3 separate regions of the Homo sapiens genome follow, and all the other regions are linked to region 1. Evidence: fine-mapped expression QTL. A gene starts in region 1. Each other region holds a variant in brackets. All regions are shown on one strand. Distances are between the middles of the regions.

Evidence for each region. PIP is the estimated chance that this variant, and not a neighbour inherited with it, causes the effect.
Region 2: its variant is the best candidate, but not a certain one, in a credible set for the expression of TENM3 in thyroid (GTEx, PIP 0.57).
Region 3: its variant is the best candidate, but not a certain one, in a credible set for the expression of TENM3 in thyroid (GTEx, PIP 0.81).

What each region holds. Positions count from the first base shown.
Region 1 is chr4:182,241,849-182,244,617 of GRCh38, forward strand. TENM3 (teneurin transmembrane protein 3) reads left to right here and starts at 1,554. Exons shown (of 28, transcript NM_001080477.4): 1 at 1,554-1,628.
Region 2 is chr4:182,583,583-182,586,351 of GRCh38, forward strand. The region is part of intron 3 of TENM3 (teneurin transmembrane protein 3); the gene reads left to right. Among named protein-coding and RNA genes, the nearest start is that of DCTD, 330 kb to the right of the region's middle. RefSeq lists an enhancer at 1,629-2,185. The variant G/C (reference allele first, on the strand shown) is at 1,274.
Region 3 is chr4:182,555,073-182,557,841 of GRCh38, forward strand. All of the region lies in intron 3 of TENM3 (teneurin transmembrane protein 3), which reads left to right. Among named protein-coding and RNA genes, the nearest start is that of TENM3, 310 kb to the left of the region's middle. The variant G/A (reference allele first, on the strand shown) is at 1,104.

The DNA of each region.
Region 1 (2,769 bases):
GCTTGACCGTTCTTTTAAAAACGCTTCTCCACTGAAATGACTCTCCGTGGTCACAAATAACCTCTTTATTCCTGAAGCCAGTGGACCCTTTTCAGTTTTGCTCTCATCTGTTTTCTCCACTGTCAGCCACATGCCTTTTCCACCAATTTGCCTTCTTTTTTTTTTTCCTCTCTCTTTTTTTTTTTTTATTTTACTTTAAGTTCTAGGGTACATGTGCACAAGGTGCAGGTTTGTTACATATATATACATGTGCACAAGGTGCAGGTTTGTTACATATATATACATGTGCCATGTTGGTGTGCTGCACCCAATAACTCGTCATTTACATTAGGTATATCTCCTAATGCTATCCCTCCCCACTTCCCCCACCCCATGACAGGCCCCGGTGTGTAATGTTCCCCTTCCTGTGTCCAAGTGTTCTCATTGTTCAGTTCCCACCTATGAGTGAGAACATGCGGTGTTTGTTTTTTTTTCCTTGCAATAGTTTGCTGAGAATGATGGTTTCCAGCTTCATCCACATCCCTACAAAGGACATGAACTCATCCTTTTTTATGACTGCATAGTATTCCATGGTGTATATGTGCCACATTTTCTTAATCCAGTCAATTTGCCTTCTTAAAACTTCTTGGTGGCCCAGCACGGTGGCTCATGCTTATAACCCCAGCCCTTTGGGAGGCTGAGGTGGGTGAATTGCTTGAGCCCAGGAGTTTGAGACCAGCCTGGGCAACATGGTGAAAACCCGTCTCTACAAAAAATACAAAAATTAACCCGATGTGGTGGCACTTGCCTGTGGTTCCAGCTACCTGGGAGACTGAGGTGGGAGAATCACCTGAGCCTGGGAAGTCGAGGTTGCATTGAGCTGAGATTGCGCCAGTGCACTCCAGCCTGGGTGACAGACTGAGGCCCTGTCTCAAACAATAAAACTTACTGGTTTTCCTGCCTGATTGCTTTCTCTGAACTGTACCCTAGATCTTCCTACCGTGGTGGTTCAGATGAGAGATGATGGTAGCCTGTATGTGGGTAGTGCTTATCAGAGATGGAAATAAAATTGACAAGAGTTGATAATGTATTAGAAGCGGAGGCTAAGAGAGAGGTAAGCAAGATAATCACTAGGTTTCTGACTTGCATAATTGGGCGGTGATGTCATTCACTGAGATTAGAAGCATTCCAGGGCGACTATGTGGTAGAGAGGCTACAATGAATTCAACTTTAGATGTATTGGAGATGTGTTTAGAATGTCTTAAGGGTAAATGTCACATAGGCTTTTATTTATTTATTTATTTGAGACAGAGTTTCGCTCTTGTCGCTCAGGCTGGAGTGCAGTTGGGTGATCTTGGCGCATTGAGACTTCCACCTCCCGGGTTCAAGCAATTCCCCTGCCTCAGCCTCCTGAGTAGCTGGGATTACAGGCATGCACCACCACGCCCAGATAATTTTTGTATTTTTAGTAGAGGCGGGGTTTCACCATGTTGGCCAGGCTGGTCATGATTTCCTGACCTCAAGTGATCCGCCCACCTCGGCCTCTCAAAGTGCTGTGATTACAGGCATGAGCCATCGCACCTGGCCATGAAGGCTTTTAGATGGGTCTGGAGCTTGGAGGAGAAGTCTGAACTAAGGATAAACTAAAGGTAAGTTGCTGAGTCATCTGTAGAGAGGTGGGAATTGAGGGCACGGATGAGACAGCCTAGAAGAAAAGGAGGAGAAGATGAGAAGAGAGTATCGAGGTATTGGAAACTGGGGAGGGCAGACAAGTCTAAAAAGGAGACTGGAAAAAAGTAGTTGAAGATGGAGAGGGCAAATCTGGGCAGTGTTGGGACACGGAAGCTGAGGAAAAGAGCAGTTCAAGATGCTTGAAATGAACACACCAAAAATACTGTGAACTATTCAGCACGTCCTTGTTTTATAAGTAAAATTCATAGTCACATCAGCGAAATAATTTTAAATGTATGTCTGTTGACTTAAATATTGGTTTTCTTTTGTGACTGAGGTTCCAGTACTTAGGAAAGGAAATGAAAGAGAGGCAGGGCACTCAGGGCTGACTGTCTTCTCAAAGTGCTAACTGATAGACTCTTCCAAGAATGGAATCATTTGTGTTTTCTTTTTTTTTTTTTTTTTTTTTTTTTGAGACGGAATCTCGCTCTGTCGCCCAGGCTGGAGTGCAGTGGCGTGACCTCGGCTCACTGCAAGCTCCGCCTCCCGGGTTCACGCCATTCTCCTGCCTCAGCCTCCCGAGTAGCTGGGACTACAGGCGCCCGCCACCACGCCCGGCTAATTTTTTGTATTTTTAGTAGAGACGGGGTTTCACCATTTTAGCCGGGATGGTCTCGATCTCCTGACCTCGTGATCCGCCCGCCTCGGCCTCCCAAAGTGCTGGGATTACAGGCGTGAGCCACCGCGCCCGGCCTCATTTGTGTTTTCTATTAAAACATATAACCCAGGGTATTAGACCACCATGGTGGTCACGGCGATCACAAAATATTTTTAACTGGTTTGCTGTGAGCTGATTTAGTGTTCTGAAATTTTATTATCTTGACTGGTAGAATTATTGGAACCAGCCATACATGTTAGAGTGATTGACAGCTACTTCTGATGAGGCTTTTATTGGATCTCAGGCAGCCTGCAAGTCACTGTCCTTTGCATTCAGATGCATTTATTTCCACAGCCTCCAGGGTAGCTAATGTTATTTTTCCTTCCCATTCCGAAATTTTAAGATGCCTCAGCTTTAGCCTGGCTCCTAAACTGATGGACAAGAGGAGAATATGAAGAGGA
Region 2 (2,769 bases), 340 kb after region 1:
TCTTTTCATTTATATCTCCCTAATTTTTATATAAGTAAGATTCTATTTTTAATTCTAGATCTTTGATATATGAAAATGACTTGTATTTGAAGTGTTTAATTTTTGAAGTTTTTAAAATTAATGTCAGAACACTAGATTCCTCTTAAAAGTAAATTAGTAATTATATTTTAAAAATAAAATATACATTTTGGCAATACAAACCCAGTTATCATTTAATTGTTAGCATGTGTTTTCTACAGATATATTTTCCTTACTAGGCAGATAATGTACATGCTTGCTAATGAAAGCTTTGTGAGCTATGTGTCTTTGGCACTTATTTTGCATAAATTATAATACTGTGTTTTACTAAAATATGGGTTAAAGCAAATATATTCAAGACAGTGTGCAAATGTGAATGCAACAGATTCCAAATAGATGATTTTTTATTGATAAATAGTAATATAAGTTTTACTGCAGTTTTAAGAATCATCAAGATTTTCAACAGAAGGGCTTATTTGTTTTAAACCCTAAGCCGCCTTTCTGAAACCTGAAAAAGATTTGTGAAAACAGCCTGCAATAAAAATCACACACACTTCATAAAACAGTACTTGATAGATATCACTTGCACCATTAAGAGCTAAACGACAAAGGATGTAATTTCAGTTCTGGCATGCAATATTAATCGAAAGCCTTTAAAACATCTTGCTGATGGGAACTATGACAACATGACATTGAAGAATTATGAGCTAAAGACATCTATCTTAATCAGATTTTTGAAGTAAATGCCATAAAACATAAAGTTGTTTTCTTCATCTTTACATTTTTACATGTTTTTGGTGGGAGCATGATTTTCTAGTGTGTTGCTTTAAATGCAGAGACTGCAAAATCAGTATTTAAAAGTATGAGTTCAGTACACAGAGTTGAAGCAAATTTTAGTCAATACACTCTGCATACACAGGGAATTATTTCTGTAATAATGTACATTTTTCCATCTTTTATGCCAGCGATTTGTCTTAAGCAAATACTTTAAATAAATGATATTAATAGATATTTTGGAAACATAATTAGGTGTTTCTTTGCCTTTTTTTCTTTTTTTGAGACGGAGTATTATTCTGTCGCCCAGGCTGGAGTGCAGTGGTGCCATCTCGGCTCACTGCAACCTCCACTTCCCTGGTTCAAGTGACTCTCCTGCCTCAGCCTCCCAAGCACCTGGGATTACAGGCGCCTGCCACCATGCCTGGCTAATTTTTTTGTATTTTTAGTAGAGACAGGGTTTCTTCATGCTGTTCAGGCC[G/C]GTCTCGATCTCCTGACCTCAGGCAATCCACCCACCTCGGCCTCCCAAAGTGCAGGGATTACAGGCGTGAGCCACCGTGCCCAGCTGTATATTTGCCTTTATAAATTTAGAAATGAAAACAGAATGCTTGTAAAGACCTCCCCATAGAAAGAAATTATCTTATGGATATACTAACATGTAAACATCTTTTTTTCCTAAAAGAAATACGGCAAAAACATTTATTACTTTGTTTGAATAATTAAGAAAAGCCTGGAAATTAACTCCTTCCACTAAAATAACACTTCACAGTTTATAAAAATACTTTAATATACATTATCTCCTTTAATTCTCACAACATTTCCTTTTAAGATTGATTATTACCCCATTTTACAGGTGAGGAATTGGAGTATTTACAATAGGAAATTGATGATATAGTTACTAAGTTTGGGACAGGGAGCTTAAACTGTCCCATTTGGGACAGGAAACCAGATGTTATGGGCTAAATGTTTGTGTCCCCCAAAATTCAAATGTTGACGCTGTAATCCCCTATGTGACTATTGGAGCTAGGGCCTCTAAGGAAGTAATTAAGGTTAAACGAGGTCATCAGGGTGTAGCCCTGATCCTGCCGCATTAGCATCCTTATAAGAAGAGACACCAGAGGGCTTTGCTCTCCTGCATTGCTCCCCTGCTGTCTGCCTCGCCTCAGCAAGAAAACAGCCATCTGCAAGCCAGGAAGAGAACTGTCACCAGAAACCAACCGACCCTGCCAGACCTTGATCTGTGACTTCTGGTCTCTAGAACTGTGAGAAAATCATGTCTATTATTTAAGCCACCCAGTCTATGGCATTTTGTTACGGAAGCTTGAGCAGACCAGTACGTCACATCTCTATTCTCTTCATGATATATCCAGTGCTTATTCATCTCTTCTATGGACAATTTTAACAAACTGGCACCAAACTATGTGTAGACTCATGAAATGAAAGCTCATAAGATCCATGAAAGACTATCTTAGTTACTGCTTCTTTTTGAACCTTTATGTTGAGAGGAAGGTTCCTAGTGGCAGTGAGCATCTTGAAGAAAGATGCAGGCTTCCAATCTCAATATATCATGTTTACTACTATTTTAAAAGGCACAACCGGCTGGGCACAGTGGCTCACGCCTGTAATCCCAGTGCTTTGGGAGGCCAAGGTGGGAGGATCACTTGAGACCACAAATGTGGGACCATGTGGGGCAATATAGCAAGACCCCCACCTCTACAAAGCATTTTAACAAATTAGCTGAGGATGGTGCTGCATGCCTGTAGTACCCGCTACTCAGGATGGTGAGGTGGGAGGATTCCTTGAGCCCAAGAGTTCGAGGTTGCAGTGAGCTATGATCACAGTACTGTACTCCAGCCTGGGCAACACAGCAAGACCCTCTCTCTTAGAGGCACAAAAAAGCCTTAGAAAATACAGATTATTAATTTCCCAAACAATTATAGGACCTTACATTTATAGTACTTGCCATTCACGGGGCAT
Region 3 (2,769 bases), 310 kb after region 1:
CTCGCATTAATGGCCATGTGAGTGCATGCTGAAAATGTATATTTAGGAAAGTAAGGACATAATTAACATAAAAACCATTCTAATAGAATTAGTCTATGACTGAAGGAGGCAAGCGAGTCCAAATCATTCTGTATTGTTCAGTACATTTTTTTTTAATATCAGGCATAAATTTAACTGTGTGTTGCCACCAGTGACAACTATCATAGAGGTTTGGGTTTTTTAAAATCAAGAAATATAGTTTGAATCTTGCTCCTCCATGAACTGTAATACTATGTAAGTCTTACTTAAAATATTATGCTTATATGGTAGACATTATGTTAGTATAATTGTGAAAAAAAATAGTTGCCTAGAAGTAGCAGTGGATGCTTTAAAATTTTTTTTCAATATATTTAAACAAAAAGATTATTTGTATGGTTTGGGGCTTAAACATTGATTTGGGACCTAAAGTACATTTAAAACTACAGCATTGGTGATGAAATTTTGGCCTGGTTCAAGTAGGTGCTCAGTAAGTGAGCACTGAATGAATGTGCTATTAACTAAACAGCCTTACAAATAAATACCATGTCAAGAAAGACTCAGTACATCAAGAAAACCAAGTGCACATATTAACTTAAATGCATTTATATGGGTTTTAAATTGTTGCCCTTCAAAATGCAATAATGTATTTATTGATCTTGATTTTATGATTTGTAAAATATGCTTTTTTAAATTTCCTGAAAATTAAAAACTTAAGTCATTAATCCACTACTCTCTGGAATTACTTTTTTTTTTTCTACGAACACTTAAGAGTTTCTCTAAAAGAATAACTTCCCAGGTCCTGAGGCCTCTGGAATTACTTTTTTTATTCTACAAACACTGAAGAGTTTCTCTAAAAGAATAACTTCCCAGGTCCTAATGCTTAATGCAGGAAGTAATATTAGTACTTTTTTTGTTGTTTAGTCTCTTTCTCTGACCAAATATGCCACCAACTTGAGTCTCATTGTCCCTAGCCCATTAGGAACAATAGAAGTTTTACCCCACTTCCCAGCCCTTTTCTTAGGAATGTAGGAATCTGGCTAGAAGGCACAACAACCTCCCACCTTCCTAGTAGACCAAGGATTCCT[G/A]TTGTCAGATGCAGTGGGCATGAAAGCAGCAATTTTACAGCACAAAAACTCCAATAACATTTACTTCGGTTGGCTGAGATTGCAATGCACACAGGCACTGCTCATTCTTGGTTGCTTAAGCACCAGCTAGCTTCCCTTGGCTTTTTGCCACTTTGTGCATTTCAGAGACAAGTCCTTTCAGGAGAAAGCATTTTGCTTGTAACTTGCAGTGGAGTAAACAGACCATTCAGGCATAGTTTATTGCATTACAAACTCAACTATGCGAACTATCCCAAAATTGAATACAACAAAGTAATTAGTGAAATCATTTGGTCATGAGAATTCATAAAGAGGAATTGTCCTATTTAAAAAATAAAATTTTTCTTTTCTAAAGAATTATTTAAAACTTTATATTTAGAGAATGGTAGCTTATCTCTTATAAGTTTTACTTACATAGTGAAGCTTAAAGTGACCAATTTACAAGTGTCTTCCCCTTCCCACTCCCCTGTAGCCAGCACTTTGTTGAATTCATTTGGGAAATCTTAAGAGGGCACCCACGTTGCATTATAAAGCAAACACTGAAATGACGATGACCCACTCCTACGTAGACTGAAGTGCTGGCATATCAACCCCATGTTACTATATAAAGAATAGGCAGAGAAAAGCATACAAAAACATCTCAATAGCCTGACTCAGGCTGAACTAGGTAAAATGTGCATACACATTGTGGATTCCCTAGAAGACAGGCAAGGGAAGGCAAGAGGGATGTGCATTAGGTTACCCTAGAGGCAGTATTCATCTAATCAAGAGTTCATTCATTCCTGCAGCCAGTTTTTAAAATCATACATCTAATGTGTACTGAAAACCAGTTGCTAAATATGGTTACCAGACATTTTCTTCTTCTACAAGATTGTCCTAGGTTCTGTATTTGTTTTTTTGTGGAGCTTTTTTCGGAGAACTTTAAAACAAAATTATAAAATCTCATGTAAAATCAAAATTAAATGACTTTTTCTATTCAACATTGTATCTAATTATTACCTGTTTATAAACCAATCCTGTTCATAGGGTCAGAGCAAACTGCGGCTTTCAAAAGGATATTAATGGTTAGTGCATTTGTTAACTGGGACCCTATTTATTGTTCCTGTCCAACTCAGATCACTCGTGTGTGTGAACTAAGTACTCTGAGCTTCATTAGAATCGTAATTGTCTGTAAGTAAACTGTGATGTACTTGAATTTCTACAATTGTGCTTATTTTTCACATTTTGTTCAAATAAACCAGGGCTCAGCTCTTAACATTTTCAAATACTTGTTTCATTTTAAAAAAGGACAGGGGCCTTATTTGAGCTAACAGATGAGCCCTCATTTCTACGGAACCCTAAGCAAGATCCTATCAATCCATGTGCTAATGGTCTTTTTTATTGATGAATTTGGCCCTTGCTCTGTTGATTGAATCTACATATAGTCTCTAGCCAGTGATGCTTAAATAGAAGCCACAGGGTACAACATTTTGGAGTTGAAGTTCAGACCACACAGTCTCCCTTTCTGCATCCCACAGATTCTCATCTGTGCTCTCTCCCCCAGCCTCCAGCTGCTGCACTGTCACCAGCCCAGCTGAGATTCAGAATCACTTCTGGTGTGGTTCTGTCCCTCAGGTACCCTTTATGTGCCTCAGAAACACTTTTACCT